Regions from separate parts of the Homo sapiens genome. Here regions 1 and 2 are each linked to region 3. The links come from fine-mapping of genetic effects on gene expression. A gene starts in region 3. Each other region holds a variant in brackets. All regions are shown on one strand. Distances are between the middles of the regions. Region 1 has its middle 26 kb from the start of TASOR. Region 2 overlaps ARHGEF3 (Rho guanine nucleotide exchange factor 3). Region 3 holds the start of ARHGEF3 (Rho guanine nucleotide exchange factor 3).

Region 1 (10,469 bases), 92 kb after region 3:
ACCAACATATATGGTCAATTGATTTTCAACAGGGTTGCAAAGTGAATTCAGTGATAAAGGATAATCCTTTCAATACATATTGTTAGAACAATTGGATATTTCTATGCAACAAAACCCAATAATTTAGGCCTTTACATTACATCTTATACAAAAATAAATGGATCATAGACATAAATGTAAAACCAAAAACTATACAACCTCTAGAGGAAATCAGGAGACAATATTTGTGACCTTGGGTTAGGCAAAGATTTCTTAAATGGGACCCACAAATTATAATCCATAAAAGAAAATAATTGATAACTAAGACATCATTAAAATTAAGAATTTCTGTTCTTCAAGATATGGATTAAAACACTGAAAAGACAAGCCACAGAGTGGTAGAAAATATTTGCAAATCACATCTCTGACAGAGAACCTGAATCCAGAATAAAGAAATCTCAAAATTCAGCCAGGTGTGGTGACTCACACCTGTAATTCCAGCACTTTGGGAGGCTGAGGAAAGTGGATCATTTGAGATCAGGAGTTTGAGACCAGCCTGGCCAACGTGGTGAAACCTGGTCTCTACTAATACTACAAAAATTAGCAGAGCATGGTGGCAGGTGCCTATAATCCCAGCTATTCGCGAGGCTGAGGCAGGAGAATCACTTGAGCCCGGGAAGCAGAGGTTGCAGTGAGTGAAGATTGCACCACTGCACTCCAGGCTGGGTGACAGAGTGAGACTCTGTCTCAAAAAAAAAAAAAGAAAGAAAAAAAAAGAAAAAAATCTTTAAAATTCAACGATAAGAAAACAACCCAATTTTAAAATGGGCAGAAGATTTAGACACTGACCAAAGAAGATATATGGATGGCAAATAAGCATATGAAAAGATACTCAACATTACTAGTCATTAGGTTAATGCAAATTAATGCCATGAGATACCACTACTCACCTACTCAGCTATTATAAATCTAAAGTTAAAAAGACTAACCATGGCAAATAGCATAAGAAAAATTGTTCAACATCACTAATCATCAGGGAAATGCAAATAAAAACTACAATGATATTATCTCACACCCATCAGTGGCTACTGTAAAAAAACAGATAATAAGTTAGCAAAGATGTGGAAAAATTGTACTTCAGTGGGAATGTAAAATGGTGCCACTGCTATGGAAAGCAGTACGGCAGTTCCTCAAAAAACGAAAAACAGAATTACCATGTGATTCAGCAAGCCCAATGCTGGGTATACACCCAAAAGAATTGAAAGCAGGATCTTGAAAAGATATTTGCACACCAGTGTTTGTTTCAACATTATTCACAATGGCCAAGACATGGAAGCAACCCTAGTATCAATGGATTAATGGATAAACAAACTATAGTAAATACACAAAACAGAATATTAGTCAGCTTTAAAAAGGAAGAAAATTATGATACATGCTACAGCATGGTTGAGCCTTGAGGACATTATGCTAGGTGAGATAAGCCAGTCACAAAAAGACAAACACTGTATGATTCCACTTACATGATGTATCTAAAGTAATAAAATTCATAAAAACAAAATAGAATGGTGGTTGCCAGGGGCTGGGTGGAGGAGAACATAAGGAGTTTTTGTTTAATGGAGATAAGAGTTTTAGCTTTGCAAAATAAGAAAGTTCTGGAGCTTTATTGTACAATAATGTGAATATATTTAACACTACTGTACACTTGAAGCCAGTTAAGGTGGTAAATATTATGTGGGGTTTTTACTTATTTCTTTTGAGATGGAGTCTCACTCTGTCGCCCAGGCTGGAGTGCAGTGGTGCGATCTCGGCTCACTGCAACCTCTGCCTCCTGGGTTCAAGCTATTCTCCTGCCTCAGCCGCCTGAGTAGTTGGGACTACAGGCATGTGCCCCCACGCCTAGCTAATTTTTATGTGGGTTTTTTAAACTACAATTAAAAATGAATAAAAATAGGCTGAGCTCGGTGGCTCATGCCTGTAATCCCAGCACTTTGGGAGGCCGAGGAAGGTGAATTGCCTGACCTCAGGAGTTCACAACCAGCCTGGGCAACCTAGTGAAACCCGGTCTCTACTAAAATACAAAAAATTAGCTGGCGTGGCGGCGTGCACTTGTAGTCCCAGTTTCTCAGGAGGCTGAGGCAGGAGAATTGCTTGAACCTGAGAGGCGGAGGTTGCAGTGAACCAAGATCGTGCTGTTGCACTCCAGCCTGGGCGACAAAGCGAGACTCCGTCTCAAAAAATAAAATAAATAAAAATAAACCAGGACTGGGCATGGTGGCTCATGGCTACAATCCCAGTACTTTGGGAGGCTGAGGTGGAAGGATCACTTGAGGCTAGGAGTTCTAGACCAGCCTGGGCAAAGTTATGAGATCTCATCTCTACTTAAAATGATACATTAGCCACACATGGTAGTGCATGCCTATTAGTTTCAGCTATTCGGGAGGCTGAAGTGGGAGAATCACTTGAGGTTACGAGTTTGAGGCTGCGATGAGCTAGGATCATGCCACTGCACTCTAGCCTGGGCAACAGAGCGAGGCTGTGTCTCTAAAAAAAAATAAAAAATAAAAATAAACCAAACTTCTGGTCCAGATAAGATGATGTAGACTCATTCCTCCCTGTTCCTCTTCACTAAGTACAACTATAAACCCTAGAAATAACTCAAAAGGCGACCAAAGAAGAATTCTGAAGGCTAAGAATAGGAAGGCAAACTGGTTTGAGACCCTGGAACTAGAGAAACAACACAGTGGCAGGGTATCTTACTCTCCACCCAACAGAAGACACTGACCCAGGCCCAGCATTTCTTGAAGCAGCAATAGAAGACAGCCCTGGTAGGCTCATTTTCCCAGATCCAACAGGAGCCTTCCAATACCACCAGGTGAGGCCAGCACCACCAGAGATGGGGATTGGTTGGGAGTCCTGCTAACAAGTGCCATGGGAAATAGTCTCCTTCCCCACTGAGAGATACCAAGATAACCAGGTGGTACCTGCAAGAGGGACCCTGCCACAAGTGGCTCAGCCCAGGAAGCCTCTGTGTTCCCATTGGCCTGAGACTCCTCTCCCCCACCCAGAGATGGCAAGGTCCCACCACAGCAAGCACCGGGCCCAGGAAGCAGTCTTTGTCCCTCACAAGCAAAGGGGATCCTGCCAAGCACCCAGCCAGGGAGACATCTTCATCCTCAAGGCTCTGAGTCTCATCTCCCCAACTGAGAGACACCTGGTGGTCTAGCCTGGGGAACCTCTGTTCCCTCCAGCAGCACCAATAAGGACCAGTGGGAGCCTCAGCAGCATCAGATAAACCAAGCAGACCAAAATAACACTGAAAGCGCTCTGAAAAATGTCATTGGAACCACAGCCCATAAAATTAGCCCAGGACCTGCACACTAAACCTAAACAAGGTAACTGCCAGTTAAAAGATTTAAGTAATATGCTCCTAATGTAATAGAAAAATGTCTAGAATATAATAAAAAATCACCCATCATGCCAAAAACCAGGAAAATTACAACTTGAATGAGAAAAGATCATCAATTGATGCCAACAAAAAAATAAGTCAAATACTGGCATTATCTGACAGGATTCTAAACCAGCTATCATAAAAATGCTTCAAAAGTCATTACAAGTTCTCTTCAGGAAGTCTCAGCAAATAAATAGATCTTATATTAAAATGTACTGAATGGAAAATATAGAACTTAAAAATACAAGCGCAGAAAAATTTTAAAATACTTCTTTGAATGGGCTCTATAGTAAAGTGAAGATGACAGACAAAAGAATCAGGGAATTCGAAGACAGATAAATAGAATTTATCTGAACCATAAAACACACTTAAATATTAACAAATAATGATGGGTGAGGTGGCTCACGCTGTAATCCCAGAACTTTGGGAGGCCGAGGTGGATGCATTGCTTAAGCTCAGGAGTTCAAGATCAGCCTGGGCAACATGGCAAAACCCTGTCTCTACAAAAACATATAAAAAAAAAATTGCTGGGTGTGGTGGCACCTGCCTGTAGTTCCAGCTACTGGGGAGGCTGAGGTGGGAGGATCACTTGAGCCCAGGAGGCAGACGTTGCAGTGAGCCAAGATCATGCCACTACACTTCAGTCCTGGTGACAGAGTGAGACCCTGTCTCAAAAAAAAAAAAAAGATAAAATACAGTTAAATATATATATATATATATATATATATATATATGAGCAGAGTCCCCAGGGACCTGTAAGATTTTTTTTTTTTTAAATCCAGCATTGTTATACACAGACAAATGTGTGCAAGTTCAAATGTGGACATCTAAATAAGATTGTCAGATTTTATCAATGTCAGTATTCTGCTTGTGATGCTCTACTGTAGTTCTGAAAAATGGTTACCACTGGGGGGAAGAAGGTAAAGGGTTCACAGGATCTCTTTGTATTATTTATTACAACTTTGCAGTTATCTCAATTAAAATGTCAGTGAAAAGATGACCCAGGTACAATGTGGAAAAGGAATGGCAAATACTGGAACCATGCCTGGCTAATTTCTTGGTGTTTTTTTGTTTGTTTGTTTTTGTTTTTGTTTTTTTTGAGACAGAGTCTCACTCTGTCGCCTAGGCTGGAGTGCAATGGTGTGATCTCGGCTCACTGCAACCTCTGCCTCCCAGGTTCAAGTGATTCTCCTGCCTCAGCCTCCCAAGCAGCTGGGATTACAGGCACCCACCATCACGCCCAGCTAATTTTTGTATTTTTATAGAGACAGGGTTTCACCATGTTGGCCAGGCTGGTCTTGAACTCCTGACCTCAGGTGATCCCCCCACCTCGGCCTCCTAAAGTGCTGAGATTACAGGTGTGAGCCACCGAGCCCAGCCATTTGTTTGCTTTTTCAGACAGGGTCTCACTATATTGTCCAGGCTGGTCTCCAACTCCTTTCTCAGCCTCCCAAAAAGCTAGGATTACAGGTGTGAGCCACCACACCTGGCCTTGATTTTCTGTCTACCTTTTATATTAATTAGAGAAGTACTAAAATTTCCAACTGTAAGTTTGGATTTGTCTATTTCTCCTTTAAATTCTATCAGTTTTGGGATATGTATTTTGAAGATTTGTTATTGGATACCAACACATTCAGGACTGTTTTATCTTCTTGATGAAATTACCCCTTCATGGTTATGAAATGTTTCTCCCTTAGCTCTAGTAATACTCCTCATTATAAAGTCTCTTTATATTGGCATAACCACTCTAGCTTTCTTTTGACTTGTAGCATATATGGTATATATTTTGTCATCTTATATATTTTAATCTGTGTGTGTGTGTGTGTGTGTGTGTGTGTATACTTTTTTTTTTGAGACAGAGTCTCACTCTATCACCCCAGCTGGAGTGCAATGGCCCAATCTCAGCTCACTGCAACTTCCACCTCCTGGGTTCAAGCGATTCTCCTGCCTCAGCCTCCCAAATAACTGGGATTACAGGCACCTGCCACCATGCTCAGCTAATTTTTTGTATTTTTAGTAGAGATGGGGTTTTACCATGTTGGCCAGGCTGGTCTCGAACTCCCGACCTCAAGTGATCTGCCTGCCTTGGCCTCCCAAAGTGCTGGGATTACAGGCTTGAGCCACCACGCCCGGACTAATATATATTTAAATAGATTTATTGTGGACAGCATATATATGAGTCTTGCTTTTTTTTTTTTTTTTTTTTTTTTTTTGCGACAGAGTCTTGCTCTGTCGCCAGGCTGGAGTGTAGTGGCATGATCTTGGTTCACTGCAACCTCTGACTCCCTGGCTCAAGAGATTCTCCTGCCTCAGCCTCCGAGTTGCTGGGATTACAGGCACATGCCACCAGGCCCAGCTAATTTTTGTATTTTTAGTAGAGACAGGGTTTCACCGTGTTGGCCAGGATGGTCTCAGTCTCCTGACCTTGTGATCCACCCACCTTAGCCTCCCAAAGTGCTGGGATTACAGGCATGAGCCACCACGCCCAGCCTCTTGCTTTTTTTTTTTCTAATCTAGCCTGACAGTCTCTTTCAATTGGAAGCTTTATACCCTTTATGTTTAATGTAATTAATAATATAATTCATTTTAAGTCTGCCATCTTGTTAGTTGTTTTCTGTATGTTCCATTTGTTTTAGATTCCACTTTCTCTCTTTACCAACTTTTTTTGGATTAATTACTTTTTTTTTTTTTTTTTTGAGACAAAGTCTCGTTCTGTCACCCAGGCTGGAGTGCAGTGGCAAGGGAACCTCTGCCTCCCGGGTTCAAGCAATTCTCATGCCTCTGCCTCCCAAGTAGCTGGGATTACAGGCACGTGCCACCACGCCCGGCTATTTTTTATATTTTTAGTAGAGACAGGGTTTCGCCATGTTGCCCAGCTGGTCT[C/T]GAACTCCTGACCTCAAGTGATCTGCCCGCCTCGGCCTCCCAAAGTGCTGGGATTACAGGCGTGAGCCACAGCACCTGACCAGATTAAATATTTTCTAATACTGTATTTGTCTCCCCTTTAGTAGTTATTCTCTTTGGTCTTTTTTGGTTTTTTGTTTGTTTGTTTAGTGTTTGTTCTTTAAATTATCACCATCTACCTTCAAATAATATCATACCGGCCACGCGCGGTAGTTTATGCCTGTGATGCCAGCACTTTGGGAGGCCAAGGCGGGTGGATCATGAGGTCCAGAGTTTAAGAGCAACCTGGACAATATGGTGAAACCCCGTCTCTTCTAAAAATACAAACATTAGCCGGAAGTGGTGGCAGGCACCTGTAATCCCAGCTACTCCGGAGGCTGAGGCAGGGAACTGCTTGAACCCAGGAGGCAGGGAACTGCTTGAACCCAGGAGGCAGAGGTTGCAGTGAGCTGAGATCGCGCCACTGCACTCCAGCCTGGGCAACCGAGTGAGACTCCGTCTCAAAAATAATAATAATAATAATAATAGTATCATACCTTTCATGTATAACGTAGAATCTTACACCAATATACTTCCATTTCCTTCACCCCCTTCTCTGTGGTAGTGTTGTTACACATGTGTCTTCTCATGTTTTAAGCTCCAAATTTTATTATTATTTTAACATAATAGAGATAGATAGACATATTTATCTTTTAAAGAAATAAAACAATTAGAAAAAATTGTTATATCTGTGCCAATATTTACCTTTTCTTTTTTTTTTTTTTTTTTGAGATGGAGTTTCACTCTTGTTGCCCAAGCCGAAGTGCAATGGCGCCATCTCGGCTCACTGCAACCTCCACCTCACAGGTTCAAGTGATTCTCCTGCCTCAGCTTCCCGAGTAGCTGGGATTACTGGCATGTGCCACCACGCCCGGCTAATTTTGTATTTTTAGTAGAGACAGGGTTTCTCCATGTTGGTCAGGCTGGTCTCAAACTCCTGACCTCAGGTGATCCACCCACCTTGGCCTCCCAAAGTGCTGGGATTACAGGTATGAGCCACCGCCCCCGGCTATATTTACCTTTCTAGTACTCTTATTTCATTTGTATAGAAAAAAGTTTCCATTTGGTATTATTTTATTTCAGCCTGAAGAACTTTCTTTGAACATTTTTTATATTGGAGATATATACTAACAATAAACTTCTCGGCTTTTGTTTGAAAAATCTTTAATCTTGTTTTAATTTTTAAACAGTATTTTCACTGAAAATAGAATTTTAATCTACAATATTTTTTTCTCTGAGCACTTTAAAGATATTACTTCATTGTCTTCTGGTTTGCAGTTTCTACCAGAAGCCTGTGAATAATTCTTATCTTTGTTCTTCTGTATGTAATGTGTATTTGGGGTTGAGAGGAGCCTGCATTTAAGATTGTATCTTAATCATTGGTTTTTTAGTGATTTTAATTATGACATGCCTTGGTGAGGTTTGTATGTGTGAGAATGTTTATCCTACTTGGCATTCAATGAATGTCTTGGGTTTCTGTGTCTGTGATTTCCATAAAATTTGAAAACTATAAGCCAATATTTATTAAAATAGTTTTTTTGTAGTATCCTTCCTTATGAGACTCCAATTATGAATATGTTAGACCACTCCATATTTTTCCAGAAGTCAGTGAGGCTCTGTTCATTTGGTTAAAAAATATTTTTAACATTTGTGCTTCATTTTTAAAAACAGATTCTATTGCCAGGTTCTCAAGTTTACTATTTATGTTTTAGCAGTTTCTAATCTTAATACCTCCAGAGAAACTTCCATTTTCATTCTGATACTATATTTTAATCTTTGGATATTCCATGTGTTACTCTTTTGTAGTTTCATTTCTTTGCTTATGATGTTCATATTTTCACTTAACTGTGTTTACACTGTAATAATAGTTATTTTAATATTTCTATCTGCTAGTTCCAGCATCCGTATCATTTTTGTCTGTTTTCATTGATTGATTTTCTCTTGGTTATAAGCTAGCACTTTCTGGCTTCTTGGCATGTTTAGTAATATTTTATTGGATGCTGGACATTGTAAGCATCTGAATTTTGTTGCTGTTGTTGTTATTTTAAGGATATTAGGCCAGTTTACTTTTGTTGAGCACCTTGATAAAAAAGAAGAAGAATATTAGTCCAGCCGTGGTGGTTTATGCCTATAATCCCAGCACTTTGGGAGGCCAGGAGGATCACTTGAGCACAGGAGGTCGAGGCTGCAGTGGGCCATGATTGCACCACCATACTCCAGTGGTGCAATCATAGCTGGAAACAAAGGAAGAGAAGAGAAGAGAGGAAGAGAAGATCAGGCTTTGTTATGGCAGGCAGGTAAGCTAATTATAGATTATTTTGATACCTTCTTTTTTTTTTTTTTTTTTTTTTGAGGCAGAGTCTCACTCTGTCAGCCAGGCTGGAGTGCAGTGGCACGATCTTGGCTCACTGCAACTTCTGTCTCCCGGGCTCAAGCAATTCTCCTGCCTCAGCCTCCCGAATAACTGGGATTACTGGCATGTGCCACTACACCCAGCTAATTTTTGTATTTTTAGTAGAGACAGGGTTTCACCATGTTGGTCAGGCTGGTCTTGAACTCCTAACCTCAGGTAATCCGCCTGCCTCGGCCTCCCAAAGTGCTGGGATTACAGGCGTGAGCCACCACACCCAGCCCAGTTTGATACTTTTAAGGCCTATTTTAATTTTTGCTATGGCAGATATAGATTAGCCTTTACTCCAGGATTATTCCGTCTAAGCATGATCCCCCTGAATATTTGTCACATGGCTCAGTTAATTATTGAAGACTTTCCATTGGTTATTCAGGACCTTGGCTAATTGAAGTTCTCACTTCTCCCCACTCAGTTTGAACACTGAGTGTAATTCAGTTTACAATTCCAAGTCTTTATTTTCTCAGCCTCATGAAGGTTTTACTCCACACATGCATAGTCAAGGGGACTTCCTATGCGGTCTTCTGAAACTCTTTTTCTACAAAGCTTCCAATTCTCTAGAATTTTGCCTGGCAACTTTCAGTTACCTTCTGCTCCCCAAATCTCGGAGAGATTGCTCAGCTTCACTTGCATTCCCCTCCCCGCATCCACAACCTGGAAATTGCCTTCAGACAAAATTCCGGTGTGGTTTTAGGGTTTACCTTTTTGTTTCCTTTCTTTTAGGGATTACAATCCACACTGCCTATTGTCTGATTTCTGAATATAGTTGTTTAGAGTATTTTGGCCAGTTTTCTAGTTGTTTATGGGGGGATCAGTATAATTGGAAGCAGGAGTCTCAAAGTCATTTTTTAAATTTCTGTTTTAAAATGTAACAGCTCTGTGTACATACAATGGAATATTATTCGGCCTTAAAAAGAAATCCTGACATATGATAAAACATAGATGAACCTTGAGGATGTTATGCTAAGTGAAACAAGCCAATCACAAAAAGACAAATACTATATGATTCCATTTCTATGAGGTACTTAGAGTAGTCAAATTTATAAAGACAGGAAGTAGAGTGATGGTTAGCAAGTACTGCGGGGAGAGGGAAATGGCGAGCTGTTCTTTAATTGGTATAGAGTTTCAGTTTTGCAATATGAAAAGGGGATAGGAGATTATTTGTACAACAGTGTGAATATGCTTAACACTATTGGACTGTATGCTTTTTTCTCCCATATATATTCTGCTTATGTAGACTGTACACTTAAAATGGTTGAGGCCAGGTGCAGTGCCTCACGCCTGTAATTCCAGCACTTTGGGAGGCCAAGGTGGACATATCACCTGAGCTCAGGAGTTTGAGACCAGCCTGGCCAACATGGTGAACATGCCTCTGTAAAAAATACAAAAATTAGCCAGCCAGAGAATCACTTGAACCCGGGAGGCAGAGGTTGCAGTGAGCCTAGACTGCACCACTGCACTCCAGCCTAGGAGCCTGGGCGACAGAGTGAGACTCCATCTGAAAAAAAAAAAAAAAAAAAAAAAAAAAAGGTTGAGATGGTAAATTTTCTGTTATATGTATTTTACAATTTTTTTAAAAAACAGCTAACAGTGACTGGGCGCGGTGGCTCACAGCTGTAATCCCAGCACTTTGGGAGGCCGAGGTGGGCGGATCACGAGGTCAGGAGATCGAGAACATCCTGGCTAACACGATGA
Region 2 (10,469 bases), 48 kb after region 3:
ACTTTTGTAATGTATGAGAATTTAAAGTTAGCATACATTATTTTCAAACTGGTAGGGGGAGTTTAAAGTTAGCCAAGGACTGAAAATATAACAGGATAGGAGGTTGATTCTCTCAAGTGAAAGTGGAAACTTTCATTTTGAAGTTTTTGTGTGTGTTTCCTTTCTTTCTGCTCTTTAATTCTTAACTCAGCTGCCATCAGAACTGCAAACTGGGTTGAGCAAGTTACTTAATGACTCACTGCACTTGTTTTGACCTTTTAATGCTTGTGGCTAATTGATTCCGAGTGCTGGCGATCTGTGTGCATTTAGTTCCTGGTTACTGTTTACAAGGGACTGTTTTTAAGAGATCACAAGGATTTGTAAGATACCATTAGTGAACTGTGTATTTGGTGCAAGTACTTTCTTGACCTGCATAGGGCTGGTCCAGCCATCATGAGCTCATTAGTGAGCCCAGGAGCACCCCCACTACTTGTGCCAGCCTAAGGGGCTTGTGTTGCTACTTGCAGAGTGAGCGTCCTGCTTCCAGAAGGTTGTGGTAATACCCTGAAGCTCTTTGGAAGTTTCTTTTTACATTTTTCATTTATTCTTACATATATATCTATATATATTTTTTTAATTTAGAACTGAAATGAGGTCTTGCTACGTTGCCCAGAGTGGTCTCGAACTCCTCAGCTCAAGCCATCCGCCTGCCTTGGCTTCCCGAAGAACTGGGATTACAGACATGAGCCACCAAGCCCCGCCTCATTTTCTATTTTTTTTTTTTTCCTTTAGAGGGAGTCTTGCTCTGTCGCCCAGGCTGGAGTACAGTGGCGCAATCTCAGCTTACTACAATCTCCACTTCACGGGTTCAAGCAATTCTTCTGCCTCAGCTTCCCAAGTAGCTGGGATTACAGGCACCTACCATCACGTCCAGCTAATTTTTTTTGTATTTTTAATAAAGACAGGGTTTCACCATGTTGTTCAGGCTGGTCTTGAACTCCTGACCTCAGGTGATCCGCCCGCCTCAGCCTCCCAAAGTGCTGGGATTACAGGCGTGAGCCACCACGCCCGGCCATTTTAGACACTTTGGGAGGCCGAGGCGGGCGGATCACGAGGTCAGGAGATGGAGACCACCCTGGCTAACACAGTGAAACCCCGTCTTTTCTAAAAATACAAAAAATTAGCCGGGCGTGGTGGCAGGTGCCTGTAGTCCCAGCTACTTGGGAGGCTGAGGCAGGAGAATGGTGTGAACCCGGGAGGCGGAGCTTGCAGTGAGCTGAGACTGCGCCACTGCACACCAGCCTGGGCGACAGAGCAAGACTCCATCTCAAAACAAAAAAAAAAGGCTAAAAATATATAAAGGAGGACAGAAATCACTCATAATGTCAACATGAAACAACAATAGAATTTTGTGATGTTCCCTTTATATCTTTGCTCATGTGCATTTTTTGCATAACTATAAAATGTTCACATATAGATTTTTAATCCTGATTTTATTTTAGGCTACATAGAAGGGGTGTTTACATTTTAAATTATCTCTGAATTGTCTAGATAATATTCCATCCAGCAGGTAATTATAACTTTTTTTTTTTTCTGAGACGGAGTCTCACTCTTGTCGCCCAGACTGGAGTGCAGTGGCACGATCTTGGCTCACTGCAATCTCCGCCTCCTGGGTTCAAGCGATTCTCCTGCCTCAGCCTCCTGAGTAGCTGGGATTACAGGCACATGCCACCACGCCCCGGCTAATTTTTGTACTTTTAGTAGAGACGGGGTTTCACCATGTTGGCCAGGCTGGTGTCAAACTGCTGACCTCAGGTGACCCACCCACCTCGGCTTCCCAAAGTGCTGGGATTACAGGCGTGAGCCACTGTGCCCAGCCACTTACAACTTATTTAACAATGCCCTTATGTTGAATAGTTCCTTTTAAAATTTTTCTTTACTTTCTGGAATTTTATTGTTGAATCTCAAAATAACTGGGAACTACCTTAGAATGCCTTTGTGATGAAGGCTCATATGTCATAAGCAAATTCAATTCCTGACCTCAGGAAGTTTCTAGTTAAGAGCAGGTGACCAATAATTATAATCAAGTATGATCATTGCTATATCAGAAGTATGTCTGAATTGCTCTGGGGGAGGAGGATGGGAGAATGTTGGTGAAGACTTCTTAGAGGAGGTGCTGTTTGAGTTACATCCCGAGGGCAGTTAAGAGTTAGCCAGCTATGGCCGGACACAGTGGCTCATGCCTGTAATTCCAGCACTTCGGGAGGCCGAGGCGGGCGGATCACGAGGTCAGGAAATCGAGAGCATCCTGGCTAACATGGTGAAACCCTGTCTCTACTGAAAATACAAAAAATTAGCCGGGCGTGGTGGCGGGCGCCTGTAGGCCCAGCTACTCAGGAGGCTGAAGCAAGAGAGTGGCGTGAACCCAGGAGGCGGGGCTTGCAGTGAGCCGAGATCGCACCACTGTACTCCAGCCTGGGCGACAGAGCAAGACTCTGTCTCAAAAAAAAAAAAAAAAAAAAAAGCCAGCTATGAAGTGATGGAAACACATTCCAGGAAGAGAAGATTGTTTGAAGGGAGTACAGAGGGATGGCAAAGCATGACATATTTAGGGAATGACAGATAGCCTAGTATGGTTGGAGAAATGGAGGCTCATGGATGAGTGGCAGGATGGGATCCTAAATATGGAGACTGTGGTCAGATTACAAGAGACTTCCTGTGCCAAGATGAGGAGTTGAAACTTCCTGCTGAAGGCCACAGAGAGCCATGGCAGGGAACACTTCCTAAATAACAATGTGGTTTTGGAGCACAGCAACCTCATTGCTTTGGCAAAGTCTCCAATAAGTGTGATGAAATCTTCTAGGATGAAGACTGAAAATGATGCACTCAGCTTTCTTCTGGATCATTTGTATTTGTCATGAAAAGCATTTTGGTAGCATGTTTAAGTCACACAGGTGGACTTCTGCGGCCTCTTTGGGAAATAGGAAAATACCTCAGGGACAGGAATCATGTGCTGCAAAGATGGTATTTAGTATGTGTATTAGTCAGGACTTTTCAAGTTGACAGAACCCCAACTGAGATAATAGAAAGGGAAATGTCTTTCTATATGTAATGAAAATGTCTAAGGGTGGTTCTTTCTGGTTTCAGGCACAGTGGGATCCAGAGGCTCAAGCAGTATTGGTAAAGCTTGCTCCCTTCCTGCCTCCATTGGTCACTCCATCCTTCATTCTGGGTCTCTTTATTCTCTCCTGTAGCAGACAGATGCTTCTGTGTAACTAGGGAGAGTTGCTGCTGGAAGGCCCTGCTTGTGTTCTCTCTTGAACTCACAATCCCAAAGGAATACTCTTTCCTCCTTTCTCCCGTAACTCATGTGACAAATTTCAGGGAATCACATGCCCATCCCTGAACTAGGATGGTGGAATACTCTATTGGTCAGGTCTGGGGGTGCCCACCAAAACTATATGTAATAGGATACCCAAAGTTAGTGGGATTCTATTTATAGAAGGAGGAGAGTAGGAGTACTGGCCAAATGTTTGAATAAATAAAGGCCATCCACTATTGTTATCTCTGGTTCTTTTAAAGAGGGGAGATGTCCACTGGAAAAAAGTAGAGCTCATCACGTATCCAAGAACTGCCTTCATGCGTGAGTTTGGCCTGATATGTGCTTGCACTATAGTCCACTTGGTATCCAGGTCACACAGAACAGATACTCCCAGCACATGTTCCAAAGCAGCCCCCTGTCCAATTTTCCTTAGCACGTAGGCTCAAGACAATGCCCCACTTCCCAAAGGCCTTGTGGCAATGTCCTCTTTTTCTTTCACATATATGATTTATGTTCCGTCAACGACAGGAAACTGCTCAAAGATCCACCCAGTCCTGCCGCTGCCCCCGTGATGGTTTGTTTTTCTCATTGTTTAGCGCTCCATTAGCTTCCGCAGTGAGAGCCGCCCTGACATCCTCGCCCCCCGACCCTGGTCCAGAAATGCCGCCCCCTCGAGCACGAAACGGAGAGATAGCAAGCTGTGGAGTGAGACCTTCGATGTGTGCGTCAATCAGATGCTTACATCCAAGGAAATCAAACGTCAGGAGGTAGGCTCGGGGCCCATGGAGCTGGCTGTGTGTCTGGAACAAAGGTGCATTGCAGCGTCAGCCATGCTGGAATTTGCGCCTTAGTCTCCAAATCAATTCTTCATTGCGTTTGCAGAAGGATAAACAAGAGTGTCTGACCTTGGGGAAGGAACTGAGAAACCAGAAACCAGCTGGGAGGGT[G/TG]TGGCCCCCACTTTAAAAAGAAACTGATGTGAAAATATGAATTTACAAGAAGATGAAACCAAGTGTCTATTTAGGATTCTGAAGTTCACAAAAATAATCATTTTAGTTATATTTTGTTAGCAACTTATAGACTATTTTAAAATATTTAGTTTACATAGCTTTGATTCAGCTTCATGGAAAACTTCCTTTCTATAGAATCCAGTTAATTTCATTCCCGGTAAGTTTTCTGTATCAGTTGCCCTAAATGACTCTGATAATATTACCCTGTATAGAAGAGCTTGTTTAAGTGCTTGTGCCAGGCTGTGCTGAGCACTTCATGTGTGCATCATCTGATGAGATCCTTGGAGTATCCAGCTCAGGGTTGTGCCTCCACCTGCTTTGTCCTCAGTTTACCAAGCAGCCCCAGGTGGAGGGAGCTTTCAAAGCCTGACCACTGTTTCCCTATATCCTGAAACACAGTAGACCCTGAAATATCGTTACAAACTTGTACTCCTTTAATAATGTAATGTTTGCTGACAGTTTGACTTCCCAGATGGAAGTGAAAGAGTGTTCTGTGCATCATAGCTCTTTAGCATGATGGCTTAATAGAGCCAAATTAGAAACGGTCCATTTACCTACTCTTCCACACAGCCAGCGCCTATAATTTTATTTGTTGTACCTGTGGGGCTGAGAAGTGGTTTAGAATGAATTAACTTCACCAGGTTGTATTTGGAGTGATAAAATGTTGGATTCTTCCTACAATCTCAGCCTCAAGGCAGTGGATAATACAAATAAAACTTTCTGCTGAGATTCGCCTTCTGTCGAGTAGAAGAAAAAGTGGGGATGGCCCAGTTAATAATACTGCCACATCCATTATCTAGAAGAGCCTCTGAATCACTTCTTATGATGGCCTCTCACAACAAGGGTACCAAATCCATGGCTCACACTGTAATTATTTTACCTAAAATAGTTCCCTCTTGTTCAGCTGCATCAAAGTTCTGTAACATGAAAGATGACTTTTTGGACTAGAAATGTGTAGAAACTTTCTCCCACAAACAGAGAAGCACAATATGCAGCAGTTTTGCAATATCTTTTCATTGCAGGTTTAAGCATAGATGCATTTGCTTCAGGTTAACGTAACTTAAAATACTTAAATATGTAAATTTGGGGTTTTGAGTGGTGGAGCCAGCACTATTTGAATATGGTCTTGTAAATGAAGGGAGAATTCAGTGAATATGTTTATCTTTCCTTGCAGGCGATCTTTGAGCTTTCCCAAGGAGAAGAAGACTTGATAGAAGACTTGAAATTAGCAAAAAAGGTAAATTTAAATCCAGCAGTCACTTGAGTCAAGTCACATTTTTTTTCTTGAGTAATTTCACAACCCTAAAGTGGTGCTTCGTGAGAACTGTCTTTATGACTAAGACTGGTCTGCTACCACACACCAAGCAGTGGGGAAAGTGTTTCAAAACAAGAGGGCAGAATAGCTCTCCAGACCTGGCACCTTTAGGGGTTTACCTCTGTATGTCTCTAATGCATGTCAAAGAATACTTCAGCCTAAATCAGAAAGTGTCCATGGAGGCCTCGCCTTATGTATATTTCATTGTCCTAGAAGTCTCATATGTAGGACTCTTTGCCCATAGGAGAGAATGTGTGCATGTCTGAAACTTGAACTGAGTCTTAGAAATAAAGCCATTTGAATCTCAAAAGTGAATAAAGTGAAATGAGGCAATTGCATACTATCATATAAGTTGGGGTCTTTTATATAGGAATTTGTTTTCTAATCAACATTTTGTGTGGGGAGGAGGAGGACAACAAACCTTCCTCAAAAACATTTTCGTTCCAGTGGCACAGCCCCCCAACTCCATGGCTTGGAGGCTAAAATCCAGACTCCTTCATCTGATATTCACAGCCTCCTCGAAGAATCACAGGGTTGGAAGGCTACATCCCTTCTTTTAAGGGTTTTTAGTCTTTCTGCTAAGATGAAATTCCACCTCTAGCATTCCTGAGAGATGGCCACCCAAGCTTTGCTTGGACACAGCCAAGAAACTGAGTTTTAGGCAGAGCTGGAGGAGGAGGAGATCAGAGAGGACAAAGAAGTTATTTCACTCTGAGAGTTATCATGCTGGTGTCTAACTCCCCTTTCCTGCATCAAGATTTGCCAAACTCAAGCACCTTCAGGTGTTTCCCAGCCATCCTTTTGCTTATGGTGGCCCTACCTTCCTAGAAACTTTTCTCTTTCGTTTCAACCATTCATATCCACCCATCCTTCAGGAACCAGCTCAAATCTCAGTTTATTCTTACATAACATTTATTGCCTCCTTCTCTGTACCAAGCAGCTTATCTTCAAAACTTCCCTTGGCCACTCCAGCTTTAATTCTCTGACCTTCTAGAGCAGTTTTGATTTGATGGCTTTTTGCTGTCTTGTGACATCAGTCTGGTTTTTAATCTTTAATTTTTAAACATAAGCCGGGTCCGGTGGCTCACACCTATAATCCCGACACTTTGGGAAGCTGAGGCAGAAGGATCACTTGAGGTCAGGAGTTCAAGACCAGCCTGGCCAACATGGTGAAACCCTGTCTCTACTAAAAAATACAAAAATTAGGCTGGGTGCTGTGGCTCACGCCTGTAATCCCAGCACTTTGGGAGGCCGAGGCGGGCAGATCACGAGGTCAAGAGATCAAGACCATCCTGGCCAACATGGTGAAACCCTGTCTCTACTAAAAAGTACAAAAAAAAAAAGAAAAAAATATTTTTTAAACATAGATTTAGTTTTCCATGAGATCAGAAACTAAAATATAAACTAGAAAATATTTTAGTTTTTCTTATCTTCCCCATTAGCTTTATAAAATTCCTTGAAGGTAGGAGACTTTTAAGTCTTTGTGTTCTATTTTAGTGCCCTGGGTATAACTGTGTATTCTTGTTGTTTAATTTTCTCTAGTAAGAGGTGATAGGATTATCACCTTTGCTCTCTTTGTTCAAATCAGTAGTAAAGGATACCAATCACTGTTTCTTTCCTCTTTTTCTTTATTTTAAATATGTACTAATTGAAAAAAGAATCTGCTAGTAGCTAGTTTTGAATAAAGTGGGATTTTTTTAAGAGGCAGGATCTTGATTTTGAAAACATTTTAACAGTCAAATCTGTTCTATACCTAGGATTTGTGCTCTTTCCTAGATATATGACATACTAGAATAAAAAAGCTTTTGAAAAATCTGCTTTGGTTTATCAACCACAAAGGCTTAAGGCAGTGCTGGTTTCTCCTCTCCTCCAGCCACACCTCTCTGCTGTTTCTGCAGCTTTATGGGAGAAGTTGTTAGAGAGCCAGAAGTTTTGTTATTGGATAGGACCTCTCAGGAGCCACTTACATGAACAATGTACTTCCTCTGATTTTAAACATGTGCTTCCATCTCTTGCCGTTTTTGTGCAGGCCTATCATGACCCCATGCTGAAACTCTCCATAATGACAGAACAAGAGTTGAATCAAATTTTTGGAACACTGGACTCTCTAATTCCTCTACATGAAGGTATAATTTTGTTCCCAGGATGAGTCGTGACTTGTAGCCTTAACTGAGTTGTCTTATAATGAGTGAGTGATTATTAATTGCCTGCAATGTGAATAACCCAGAACCTACTTCCAGCCCTGTTCATATTTGAATGCCTAACAAATAAGCATCTGTTTGTTTTTTGCCAGAGCTCCTTAGTCAGCTTCGAGATGTTAGGAAGCCTGATGGCTCGACTGAACATGTTGGTCCCATCCTCGTGGGCTGGGTAAGAAAGTTCTCTGGTCTTTATTGAAGATAAATTTCAATAATATAGATGGGAGTTTCATTTTAGCTAGACTTTTTTTATTTTTATTTTTATTTTTTTACAAATGTTGGTTTCACATCAGAAAAAAAAATCCTAGTAAAATTTTAATTAAATTTAAGTTTTGTATCTTTAAAGCATGAAAATAGTTTTTTTCTTATTACAAATTTATTGCATTTAAAAGTAACAGGGCCTTTTGGAACAAAATAAGTAAAGGTACACATGAAACTATTACTAGTTTCGTATCAAAATAAAACTAGTTAATATTCCGTCAGGCCAATCGCTAACATAATATACTCCAATAAAAATTTATTGACATATATCCACTACCAAAAAAAAAAAAAAAAAACTTGTCATGCTATTAAAAAAAAATTCTCATGGTCAAAATGCAGTTTTATAAACAAGATCATAAGTAAAGGTTGCTAATGTTTAGCATATTAAAAAAAACTTTTTAGGCCATAAAAAAAATCTCATGGTCAAAATGTAGTTTTATAAACAAGATAATAAGTAAAGGTTGCTAATGTTTAGCATATATACCATGCTAAGTAATTTATAGGAGAGCTGGGTATATGGTGACCTTCATCCTAATATAATCCATTCCTTTTCCTAATTAAATAAAAAGAAGTAAGCTGTGATCTTAGATTAGGAGTCATAAATTTATGATCCTGGGGCTGGATTTGTGTTTTATTGTGTACTTAAAGTTGTTTGTTTCACTTACGCTAGACAAGGCGTGTGCTCTTATTTTGCCTCAGTCCCCACCGCTCCCTATTCTACACATTTATGTTTCCTTCTGTGAGTGCTTGAATGGTCCACCCCAGTTCCAGGTGTTTTTCATTTGTTATAAAGCAGATAATGAGAGGAGATTACTTTGCTGACTTATTCCAGGCAAGATTAGGTCTCTCATCACTCTGTTGCTCACAGTATTCCAGAAAAATAGGCAGGAAGTACCACAACAGCTAATATTAGAGATTATTTCACTGTTTGGAGAGTGTTGTGAAGGTTATAAATCCTACTGTTGCTATGTGAGTTCTCTTTATTCCGTTACATCTGCATTTTAATCTTCCTAAAACCTTTCAGTTAACATGCCTTGATAACACATAGATGTGCAGAAAGTTTTAACATTGATCTTTTAACTTACGTTTCTCAATGACTGCCTTGATCAAGATACTTGATGAGAGTTTCATGACTTAAATAGCTTTAGTTCAGGAGTCAATTTTAGCACCAAGGCTGAAATATCCCAAAGGTATCCGAAAGGCAAGTAATGTTCTAAGATGAATAATTTAGAAAATATGCCTTAATATTTCAAGAGAGATCATTCATCTTATATTTTTGACTTTCATTTTATTATGAGCCATCGTAGATGTTTTAACTTCTTTAGCCCACAAAGAAATTTCTCCAAAGAGAGCCAGCCAACCGGAGACAGACAGAGACAAAGAAGGTATAATGAGTAGAGAGTGCCTCAGTGTCTCTTAAACTTCCTGAGTCTGTGGACTGCTTTGATATGGGGGTAAATGGAGCAGTTAGGCCACACTCCAGAATTTGTAGGATAACTCCTCTGCTTTTGATGAGACAGCAGTACAGGACTACATGGTTTCCTTAAGCATCATATGCAAATTGTCAGTTTATGCCAGAAGCAAAATTGTAGGAATTTGCCTTGTTAGTAACTTTTTGCTGAAATAAACATTTGTCACGTTTATTAGAAAATTGGTTTGATCTGGGAGCAGCTTTGCAGTCATTTTCTGTACATACCCAAAGGAAGTGTGACCATGCTGGCCCATTGCTATCTGGATGCTTCAGACATCAAATGAGGACTTGGATCTTGAAGAGCAGCCTAAAATTAAACAACTGGCCCGTTGTTGCCAGACTTCGTGAGAAATGGCCCTTATTTATCAGGCCTGACAAGCTGTTAAATGTTTTTCCTCTTTTAACTGCAGATGTGTCCGTCTGAGTGGGAACAGTAAACCTAGGGGTACATATGTTTGAGTTCTTGTATTTTTAACAGAACAAAATAAACATCTTAGTGGACTTTGGATGAGAAGAGTCCCATTCGACCCATGAAAAATTGATTTATTTTCTCCGCAAAGGAAAAAAGGGGGGTGGGGGGGAACCCTTTTAAACAAGTGAGCCTTCCAAGTGGGACAGCCCTGGCCAGTCCTTTTGACCTTAGAATGAATCAATTACTTTTACTTTGAAGACCTTAAACAGAGTGGTTGCTTTTTTTCAGGGAACTACCCCGGTTACTGAGAATCAGTGTCCCCGCTCCCTAATGGGTCAGCCTGTTTGAGTAAGCCTTCCCTAGCATAAAGAAACAACTTCCCAAGTGACTTATCTCTATGCCAACGTTTTTTCAATGATGAAATACTTTATAAGCTCTCCAAGGCAGAAAGTTCTCATGTTAATTTGTTGTCTCACTAAATTTTAATTCCCAGGAAAGAGCCAG
Region 3 (10,469 bases):
AAAAAGGAACTCAGGCCTGGCGCGGTGGCTCCCACCTGTAATCCCAGCACTTTGGGAGGCCAAGGCGGGGCAGATCACTTGAGGTCAGGAGTTCGAGACCAGCCTGGCCAACATGGTGAAACCCCGTCTCTACTAAAAACACAAAAAATTAGCCGGGCGTGGTGGTGTGTACCTGTAATCCCAGCTACTCAGGAGGCTGAGGCGGGAAAATTGCTTGAGGCCGGGAGGTGGAGGTTGCAGTGAGCAAGATCACACCACTGTACTCCATCCTAGGCAACAGAGCAAGACTGTGTCTCAAAAAAAAAAAAGGAACTCGCTATTCCTTATGTTAAAATATAACGCTAATAGGACAAAGCATTGTCCTGTTGGCTGAGAAGGCTGTCACAGCCATGTTAGCTTCTGGTTTTATCCTCAGGCTAGGCCTGCTCTGCTCCCAGTCATGGGACTGGGATTTAAGGAGTTGACAGATGGTCTCCAAGCCATGCCTGGTTGTCTGCAAGTCTAAAAGGAGCTAATAACCAGTGGTGGGCTTCTGTATTCAGGCCTACCATTCCACCAGCAGCCCAAATGACCCCCGCTCAACACAGGCAAGACCACAGGCCCTGTGCTTGGCACAGTTCCTGCAAATGCAGAACAGCCCTCTTTATTTCAGTCTCCAGGCTTCTGGCTGGCAAGGAACACTGCCCGGCTGTGAAGCATTTTATAGGATTATAACGGGCTATGCCGAAGGCAAGTTCTGAAAGACACTTTGTGCCGTTTCTTTGAGTGAAGCTGCCTGTTAGAGCAGTGTTGTTCCTAAGCCCGTAAACACACACACAGGCAGAATGGGGAGCTCTGGGCTCCTGGGGCCACTTAGCTTGGCGGCATTGCAGGACTGGACCAGCTTCCCTCAACTGTGACACTAACCTTAGGGATATGCTTGGAGGCCCTCCTGCAGGGGTGCCTGTTTTCTGACAGTCTTTGTTCACGGACACCCCCAGATAGTGTCTCAGGCAGATTGCCTAAAACCCCAATCTGTCAATGGTGGAGCAGTGCATTACATATGGGGAAGGTGCTGAAGTCAGGGACCAAGGTGGAAATTGCATGAGGTCAGAAATACTCCTGAAATAGCTAATCCTGACCTTAACCTATATACTGATGGAAGTTAAAAAAAAATACTCCTGAAAAATTTGTTAAATGCCTCAAGGACCATATACATGGCTTGTATGCACCCCAAATTGCTGGCTTGAGTTTATAGGCTTTGTTGTACCAAAAATATCTGTATTTAAACACCAGAATCCTATTCTGGATGGTGAGACATTCGTGCTATAAGAAGCTTGGAAGAATCAGACCACCCAAGAGAATTCCAGATTCCCATCTTTCCTTTTGTAGCTTATGCTTTTTTATAGCACTATTTAAATTGTTACAGGCCATTAGTAATCTCTCTGCCTCTGTCTGTCTCTCTTTGCCTAGCATGTATAGTGGAAAAGAGGTATGTTTGTCATATATATGTTGTGTAGCCCTGTGTATTTATTGATTTTTATGGCTCCAGTATATTTTAAGGAAAGCAAAGAAATGTTTTAAGAGAAGATGGATACGGCAGCCTTCTCATCAATCAATATGACTGTTCATTGCTCTGCAATAGTTGTGCTTCAACCTAAGTTGCACTTTAACATTTCTTCGGAGGCCAGGCACAGTGGCTTATGCTTGTAATCCTAGCGCTTTGGGAGGCCGAGGTGGGTGGATCACTTGAGCTCAGGAATTCAAGACCAGCCTGAGCAACATGGTGAAACCTCATCTCTACAAAAAATATAAAAATTAGCTGGGCGTGGTGACGTGTGCCTGTAGTCCCAGCTACTTGAGGGGCTGAGGCGGGAGGATTGCTTGAGACCAGGAGGTTGAGGCTGCAGTGAGCCAAGATTGTGCCACTGCACTCCAGCCTGGGCAACAAAGTGAGACCTGTCTCAAAAAAATAAAATAAACATATTTCTTAGGGTTTGTTTACTGTTACACTGGATTTATGGTATGTCAGACTCCCTGCTTGGCCCTAAGGATACTGCAATGAGCAACCCAGTCCCAGGGCTATCAGACGTCGCCAGGGTGACTATTTTCTTCACCAAGTGCTGTAAGTATATTTTCCAACTTGAGAACACGGCCCAGCAAGCTCTTCTGGGAGTCAAAGCCAGTGGCTTTGATGGCAAATGTGTTCTAGTTGAGATAGTGGACTGTGAGGGCCAGAAGAGCAGGCAGAGAAAGAGGAATAAGAAGTGGCTCGGGTACTTGGGCACAGGTTCTTGGTGGCCAGACAAGCCCTGAGTGACGCATGTCACTGCCTCTGGCCCTGCCTTTGGCTGCATAGTTAATCAGGGGCTACTTGGAGATGAGGTTACTCTCACACCCCCACCAAGCTTGGCTAAGCTTTTGGAGCACTTGTGTGAGCTCCCCATCAGCACAGCTCAGGCTAAAAGGATAAAATTGTGTTCAGGAATACAAATAGGAAAAATCAGTGGTTCTGAGGTGCTCTTTCCTGCCCCATACCTCTTCTGAGACAGTTTTCTTCCTATTGCTTCAGGTTATCTATCGAGGGAAAAAAACTCAGGTGCTCTCTTCAATTTCAGTTGGAACCTCCACCCATTCAGGAGCTTCATTTACATGTGTGGTAATAACAGGCTGGTTACACAGGGCCCAATTCTTTCTGCCTCCAAAGGCAGTTTGTCTGCACTAGCTGGGTAGGAAAGTAAGTGGATTTAGTGTGAGGGTGTGGATTTGATACCTGGGATGAAGAGCTATGTATTATGAGGTGTCCTGCCTGAGAAGTAGGAACTGCTGGGTTCTGACCTCAGCTAGAAGCAAAGAGCACGCAAACAGGGACTGGATATCACCATTCCCACTATCCCCTGCATCCCCAGGAAGTAAAAACAAAAGATAGTGTCTCCATAGATCACCACCTGATGTAGTCATGACTTTCCACATGAGGAGGAAAAAGATTCAACAGTACAGTCTACAAAATAACTTTTGAGAGATGATCATTTTAGGGCTGGGCATGGTGGCTTACACCTGTAATCCCAGCACTTTGGGTGGTTGAGGCAGGTGGATTGCTTGAGCTCAGGGGTTGGAGACCAGCCTGGGCAAACATGGCAAAACCCTGTCTCTACAAAAATACAAAAATTAGCTGGGCACACTGGTCCAGGCCTGTAGTCCCAGCTACTTGGGAGGCTGAGGTGGAAAGATCACTTGAGCCCAGGAGGAGAAGGTTGCAGTGAGCCAAGATCATGCCACTACACTCCAGCCTGGGCAACAAAGCAAGACCCTATCTCAAAAAAAAAAAAAAGAAAGAAAATATGATAATTATAATATTTTAAAAAACTATAATTTCCCAAGAAGTGCCATGAATGAAGGTATTTTTCTTTTTTTCTCTTGAGACAGGGTCTCACTCTGTCACCAGGCTAGAGTGCAGTGGTGCAACCATAGCTCACCACAGCCTTGAACTCTTGGGCTCAGGAATCCTCCCACCTCAACCTCGGGATTAGCTGAGACTACAGGCATGCACTACCATACCTGGCTAATTTTTAAATTTTTTTGTAGAGGCAGGGTCTTGCTATGTTGCTTAGGCTGGTCTTGAACTGTTGGCCTCAAGCCACACTGCTGCCTTGGCCTTCCAAAGTGTTGGGATTACAGGTGTGAGCCACTCTACCTAGCCATCTTTTCTTTTTTCTTTTCTTTTCTTTTCTTTTTCCTTTCTTCCTTCCTCTATTTCTTTCTTTTTTTCTTTTCTTTTTTATTTTTTCTCAGGGTCTCTGTCACCCAGGCTGGAGTGCAGTGGTATGATCTTGGCTCACTGCAACTTCTGCCTCCCAGGCTCAAGTGATCCTCCCACCTCAGCCTCTGGAGTAGTTGGGATTACAGGTGTGCACCACCATCCCTGGCTAATTTTTTGTATTTTTTTTGTAGACACAGGGTTTCACTGCTGCCCAGGCTGTATTTTTCTTATAAAAAATTTTAAAACATGAGCTATAAGCTTAAGTCCCTTTTGTTCACTATCTTTAATTCTTTAAACCCAGGTGCCTCCCTTCAGCCACAGGGGAACTGGTAAAAGCTTGCTGTGGATTCTTGTAGACAGTGTTCAATGCTATTTACCCACAAATATGTCTTTATAGAAAATATATGATATTCTTTGGTAAACTTGTATTTTTTTTTAACACAAATGGTATTGTATTATGCTTAGTCTGCAATTATTTTTAAACTGAGTCTAATACATTGGAGATCTTTCCATGCCACACCCATAGACCCATCTCCTTTTTCACTGCTGCTAAGCGGTATTACACAGTGAAGAAAGTTTATTTAAGCACTCCCTATTGATGGATATATTACCATTGTTTCCAGTTATTTTTTATTTTTTACTGCCCCAGACAGGGCTGCTGCAAACAACCTTAAGATCAATCGCCTTCTTGGGCATTTATAATGTCATTGTTTCTCCAAAAAGGATCCAGAAAGGTGTGGTAGTGCCAGGTCATCCATGCACAGCTTTATACTTGAAGGACACTCTGTCAGATTGCCCTCGAGTGTCAGGCAGCCTCTGAATATGCTAGTCAAATTTAAAAGTTGGTGCAAAGTGGGAAAGGTCTCGAGGGAATTTTCCGGGGGTGGTGGAAATGTTTCGTATACCGACTGTGGAGGTGGTTATACGGGTGTTTACATTTGTCAGAACTCAACAAACGGTACTCTTAAAATGGGTGCATTTTGCCATTTGTAGATTATATTCCACTGACATTCATTTAAAAAACCAAACAAAAACAAAACAAAACAAAAAAAACGTGCAGTGGCCTGGGAACAGGGTAAGAGAGAACACCACCCCTTTCTAATGTGGGCTTTTAAAACGCTCGCTTTTCCCCCCAGGCTCCTTCCTGCCTCCAGGTGTCACTACAGCCTCCTTTCTCCCCGTTGCCCGGTTTCGCCCCAGCCTCCTTTCTACCAGCAGCCTTTCACCCGGAGAGTGCCAAAGAGCCCGAAAGGAGCTATCATGGGGTCTGCCTGCCCCGCAATCGCGGCCCACGCTCTGCGGGGGCGCCCGGAGTCGAATACCAGCGGGGAGAGAGAGGTCCCTCTCCACCCGCGGGACCGCCCCACGCCCCTCGCAGCCCCAGGAGGTGTCCGCGCTGCGGCACGTGGGCCCTCCCGGCAGCGTGGGGCGGTGCCGAGCCGGCGGCCCGCCCCCTCCCCACCCATCAAGGCGTGGCTGGCACGGTCCCGCCCACTCGGCTCCGGAGCCCAGTCGAGTCCTGCCCGGCTAGAAGCCGGCTGTCGGTCTCCGTGTCGCCGCCGCCGCCCGGCATCGTGGAGCTGGGGCCCCCTTTTGCCTGGGAGTTTTGTAGTCGCCTAGGGTCAGCGGTGACATCCCAAAGGGCAGGCCCGGCAGCCGCCATGGTGGCCAAGGATTACCCCTTCTACCTCACGGTCAAGAGAGCGAACTGCAGCCTGGAGCTACCCCCGGCCAGCGGTCCGGCCAAGGACGCTGAGGTAGGGCCGCGCCCTGCACCTGGACCTCTATGGGTCATCTGCCTGTCTCGTCTGCCTCCATCTCCCATTCTCGGCGCCCGTCCAGTGTCACTGTCTCTGTTTCCATCTCTCACTCTCCGTGTGTGCCACTTTCTCTCTCTACATCTCTCCCACAGTCTTCTTTGTGTCTCCCCGTCGCCATCTCTCACCCTGTCTCCTTTTCTCTCGCTTTTTCTCTGTGGACCAAGCACTAGCTGCCTCCTCTCTCCCTGTCCCTCTACCTGCCGGTCTGGGAGCAACTGCCTCCTTGCCTTTGCAGGGCTCTCAGACTGTCCATCTTCTGTCTGGACTCTCAGAGGGACTTTCTCCTACTGTCAGCAAGCCCCAGTGTCAGGGAAGTGTCAGCAAGCCCCAGTGTCGCTACCCTTTAAGCGAGTTTTTTTTGCCTGGGTTGTGAGAGCAGAGGGACGTACCAGCCCTCTCACCTGTCAGACTTGGCCTTGCAGCCCTTTGGCAGCAAAAACAGGACACAGCGCCTCTGCCTATCACCTGTGGCCAGTGAGGGTCATTCAGCCGGGGGGCTGGGGCTAAATGAGTAAATTGGAGTGTCTCCCACATGGATCTTGAAAATGAATTAAAGTCCTTAGGGTCAATGGAAAGCTGCCTTGGAACATTGGAAACATTTCTCTTTCTGGGAACTTTCCTGTGCCTTGCGGGCGATGTGAAGGAGTGCTCCCAGGTTATGTTTAGTCTGCCTTTTCCTCTTGCGTGTTATTTCTCTGGCACATAGCTCACTGGCCTTAAAGGTTGGGTTCAGCTGGAGGAGAAAGCATCCCTCTCTTTGAGGGTCTTAGGGAATACAGTCGCTTTCGCTAGATTACAGCTTTGCTGTGGTCAAGCTGCGGTGGAACCCACAGGACCCAGCTAGTCATTGCCGCTCATGCGTGTATCTGGGAGCTTTCCACTCTCCCACACCTCACTCTGCGAACATCAAACATCACCACCACCACTGGGGAAAGGCTGAAGGCAGGTGTGCATCCGGCCTTGTCACAGCATTCTTGAGGTTCCACCCACTCGCCTTCCTTGGGTCTGCTCAGCTGTATGCACTTGGCTCACTGAATCATGTATATTCGGGAGCACACCATCAAAGATTCATTTCCTCTAGCAAGAGCTGCTCCAGGCTGACAGGACTCCAAGCAGTCTCTGGTTGTATTCAGCTTTCTATACGCTGAGCACAAACTAACTTCTCCCTCACTCAAACCCAACCCTACACTCCAGCTCAGTCGAATATTATCACAAAGAGTTTTTGTTGCCAGCAGCTGTGAAAGTGTGATGGCCCTAGTGGCATTTGCATAGAATTCAGGTTGGTCAGGCCTGGAATGGATATAATATTTTTTCAGTGGGAACTTCCTAATTTAATCAACATAGGAGCAGCGCAATTGGTGCCCACTCAAACTCCACTTGTAAGGAAGAAAGGCATAACCAATAAATTAATAAATTGAAGTGGGCCAAAGAAAAGAATAGTGAGGATAGCTGAGGACTCTAACCAGTCCCTTCCTACTATTACTTAGTCCTGTGTTTTTGAGTAGTTTAGCTAAAGGCTTAGGTAAAACTTGCCTGCTTAATTTCATTTTATTCTTATACATAGAATATAGATATGTCTATATATCACAAATATGAAACTTATCACATGTCAAATATTAATTTTCTTCATTGGTAGCTGGATCTAGACTATAAAATATGACTTATTTTCCTCGTATGGGGATATCCTGATGTGAGAAATAAGGAAGGGGTTGGAATAGTTTTGGAAATAGTTGGTAAATATTTTTCAGATATCACTATTGGGGTTTTTGTTTTTTAGTGTTTGATTTAAACACTAAATCAAGTATGCTTTATACACTTTGAGGCAGAGATATCTTTTAGCTTCATCGATGAGCATATCACTTCCTGATAATGGAAATTGGCAAAATTGGAAAAAGAAACCTAAGTGAGTTTAGTGGGTAGTTTTCTGGTTTCCTTATCAGCGCAAAAGGCAGCCAACCCTTGTAGGCCTAGCTTCTCCATAAGCAGTTAACTAAAATATATTTTCCACCAGTAGGTGTCGTCAGTATTCATAAATTAAAAAATAGCATTCGCTTGTCAGCCTTTTGAAAAACATGATTATATAATTGTTTATAAGCTAGGCATTGACTGTTAATTCCTCTGAAAGTATTTTTTTAAGAGTGATTGTTTTCTTTGTGGAAAGAATGTGGTTATAATAAAAAGAAAAATAGATCTATCCAGAGGCCTTTCTAGGAAAACAGGACTTGTTGACCTTCAAAGGCCGTTGCAACAGAGCACCTGTGCCCTTTAAACATTTAATGGCCGTGTGTAATGGCTGTTCCTTCCGAATTTGCCTTGGGTAGGACAGTGCACACAGCATGGCACTGGGAAGTGCCTTCTAGCATTGACTCCTATCCTTGCAGCAAGTGTACTGGGGAAAATCACTTAGGAAAAGGCTCCTGGGGAACAGGCAAGTGGCATTGATGTGCATTTGATACCGTACACTGAGTAAAAAAATATGCAAAAATAAGCATTCTCTTAAAAGCAAATAAAATTTCTACTCAAGATTTAAGTGATTTGTAATTTTTTATTTGTGGTAGTTTCCAGTGAAAGCAAAAAATGATATTTTTAAAATGTATTTTTATTTTCTTTAAAAGATCTATTTTAAGCTTTTGAAAATATTCTACAGGGATTATAATATTGCATGTCTGTTAGTATAATACTGCCTCTTAATCTGCTATTTCTTATGACATGGGGGTTTGAATTGGTTGGCAAATGTTTAATTTTAATATCCATAATCAGTGAGGTCCTGCTGGCTGTAATCATTAATTGTGAAATCTAAGGAGCTTAGTTCATGGCTCTAGAATTTCACAGAAAAATGTGATATGATACGAGCATTAAGTTTATTTCTTCTGATCTTTGATGCAGCTTTGTTCAGTTTATCTGTTTTTGTATTTATTGGTCATCTACTTCCCATGCCAAAAGGGACTGGTCTACATAGCTGCGCTAAACACCTGATCAAATCACTAAAAGAAAATGTGTTACCTCTAATGAATTATCCTGATTGTAAGTTAAAAATCAATATTTCCCCGTAGTGAGGTTTGCTTTTTAAAAAGAAGGCTTAAAAAAAAAAAAAAAAAAAAACGAAGTAAAGAAAAGGAAGCAAGCTCAGGTAAGGTGCACACATTGGCTAAGGAAGCTAGAGCCTTGTGAGAAGCTTTTAAGAGTTTTAGGTCCAGTTCATTTTTAATCAAAATACAAAGAGGTGTTTCTGTTATTTTTGTAAGAATATATCTGACAACTTGGTGGACAACTTACTTTCAGTTTTAAAATTTACCATCTTAGATATTGGTCAGATTAGGCCTGATTTAGTTAATGGTATTTGTAGCCATTGCTTTTGACTCTCAGCAGTTTTAAAAATTTGTAGTGCCATAGACCATAGGCCTATCTCATGAATAGCTGAATACTGCCCTGGGTCTCCAAAGTATAGGTTCTTATTTTGACTTAGCCAGTAGCCTTGCATGACCCTGAGAATAATGACATGCACCTAGAAATGACAGAGCTCTGCTCCTTTTCTATGTCTACCATGTCTAGTGTCTCACTTGAGACCCCACACTTGTAATAAGGTTAACATAAAGCTTGTACTGTTCTCTCCACTTTATGAATAAGGACACTGAGGGGAAGCGATTTGCAGAAAGCTGCAAAGAAAATCAGCAGCTAAGCCAAGATCCAATGTCAAATTTCCTGATGGATTCCGTCCAGCATTTAATATCAGCATCCCTTGTAGCACCTAAGGGTGTTTACCTTTGTGGGATAAAAGGTGGGGTGGTAGTACAAAACTTAACAGACATGCAAAATACTTTAAAATATTATCTTTTAAGTATAACCTTGAGCACCTTACATAACTGAGAAGGTATCCTTTAAGGCCCACTTCTAAAGGGCAAGGTGAACCCTATGCTCCTGCCACGATTTATGCCTCTATCAGTCAACATGTGCATTTTAAAATTGTATGCACCTCGGGCTGTACTTCTTGAATGCCAGCTGAAAAGCCAGAGGGTTACTGGTTTCTAGTAATCTATACATTTCTTGGAATCTGTATCTTATTGTATTGAACAGATAGTATACCTGAACACACATGAAACTAGTCATAAGGAGTTATTGCAGTTAGAATCCTGTAATTTCTTCAGATGATTAAATAGACTCCAGGAATCATATGACCTCAGAGATCTTGCTGGATGGGAAGCCACACGGAGCTACCCAGAAAAAGGCCATCACTTGCTATAGGATCTGGTTATGGTCATTGAGCCATCATTCCGAGGCTGTTCAGTTGGAAAATTATTTTGGGAATCTTGGTCCTTAAGAATGCACATGAACTAGCAACAGAAGAGGAAAATATGTTGACTTTACATGTGTACATTTAATGCTGTTCAAGGGCATTGACTAGAATAAGACTGCCTGAGTCTCAATGCTGTCTCCACCACCTGCTAGTTGATGTGACCTTGGACAAGCTACTGTGCCTCTCCAAACCTGTTTCCTCAATGGTAAAATGGAGATGATGAGAGCTCTAACTCCTAGGACCATAGTGAGGGTCAAACGAGATGTTTCATATACAGCGCTAACCATAGTGCCTAGCATGTCGTAAGTGCTCAAAAAATGTCATTATTATTAAGACCTTTACATTTCAAAAAAAAAGATTCTTAAAATGGTTTTAAGAAACATGATGATCACCAGCCTAATTTCCTGAATGTTGTTTTACACACAGCAGTGCATTAGGGGCTTTACCGTAAGTCCTTTCATCATCACAGTAATCCTATGAGGTTGGTATTAATGCCCTGTTTTGTAGAAGAAGAAACAGGCTCAGAACAGGGTAGTGGCTTTCCCAGGATGGCTTTAATGCTGGGTCAAGGAGATGAGACTAAAATCCCAGTTGACCCTGAAGTCTGTACTTTTCC

Evidence for each region. PIP is the estimated chance that this variant, and not a neighbour inherited with it, causes the effect.
Region 1: its variant is fine-mapped to the expression of ARHGEF3 in blood mononuclear cells (TOPMed, PIP above 0.99).
Region 2: its variant is fine-mapped to the expression of ARHGEF3 in whole blood (TOPMed, PIP 0.99).

What each region holds. Positions count from the first base shown.
Region 1 is chr3:56,704,288-56,714,756 of GRCh38, reverse strand. No RefSeq gene overlaps it. Among named protein-coding and RNA genes, the nearest start is that of TASOR, 26 kb to the right of the region's middle. The variant C/T (reference allele first, on the strand shown) is at 6,311.
Region 2 is chr3:56,748,580-56,759,048 of GRCh38, reverse strand. It overlaps ARHGEF3 (Rho guanine nucleotide exchange factor 3), which reads left to right. Exons shown (of 10, transcript NM_019555.3): 3 at 3,898-4,068; 4 at 5,483-5,545; 5 at 7,653-7,749; 6 at 7,917-7,993. Among named protein-coding and RNA genes, the nearest start is that of ARHGEF3, 48 kb to the left of the region's middle. The variant G/TG (reference allele first, on the strand shown) is at 4,249.
Region 3 is chr3:56,796,730-56,807,198 of GRCh38, reverse strand. It overlaps ARHGEF3 (Rho guanine nucleotide exchange factor 3), which reads left to right and starts at 5,250. Exons shown (of 10, transcript NM_019555.3): 1 at 5,250-5,496. The coding sequence starts at 5,401. RefSeq lists a silencer at 5,081-5,250 and an enhancer at 7,615-7,664.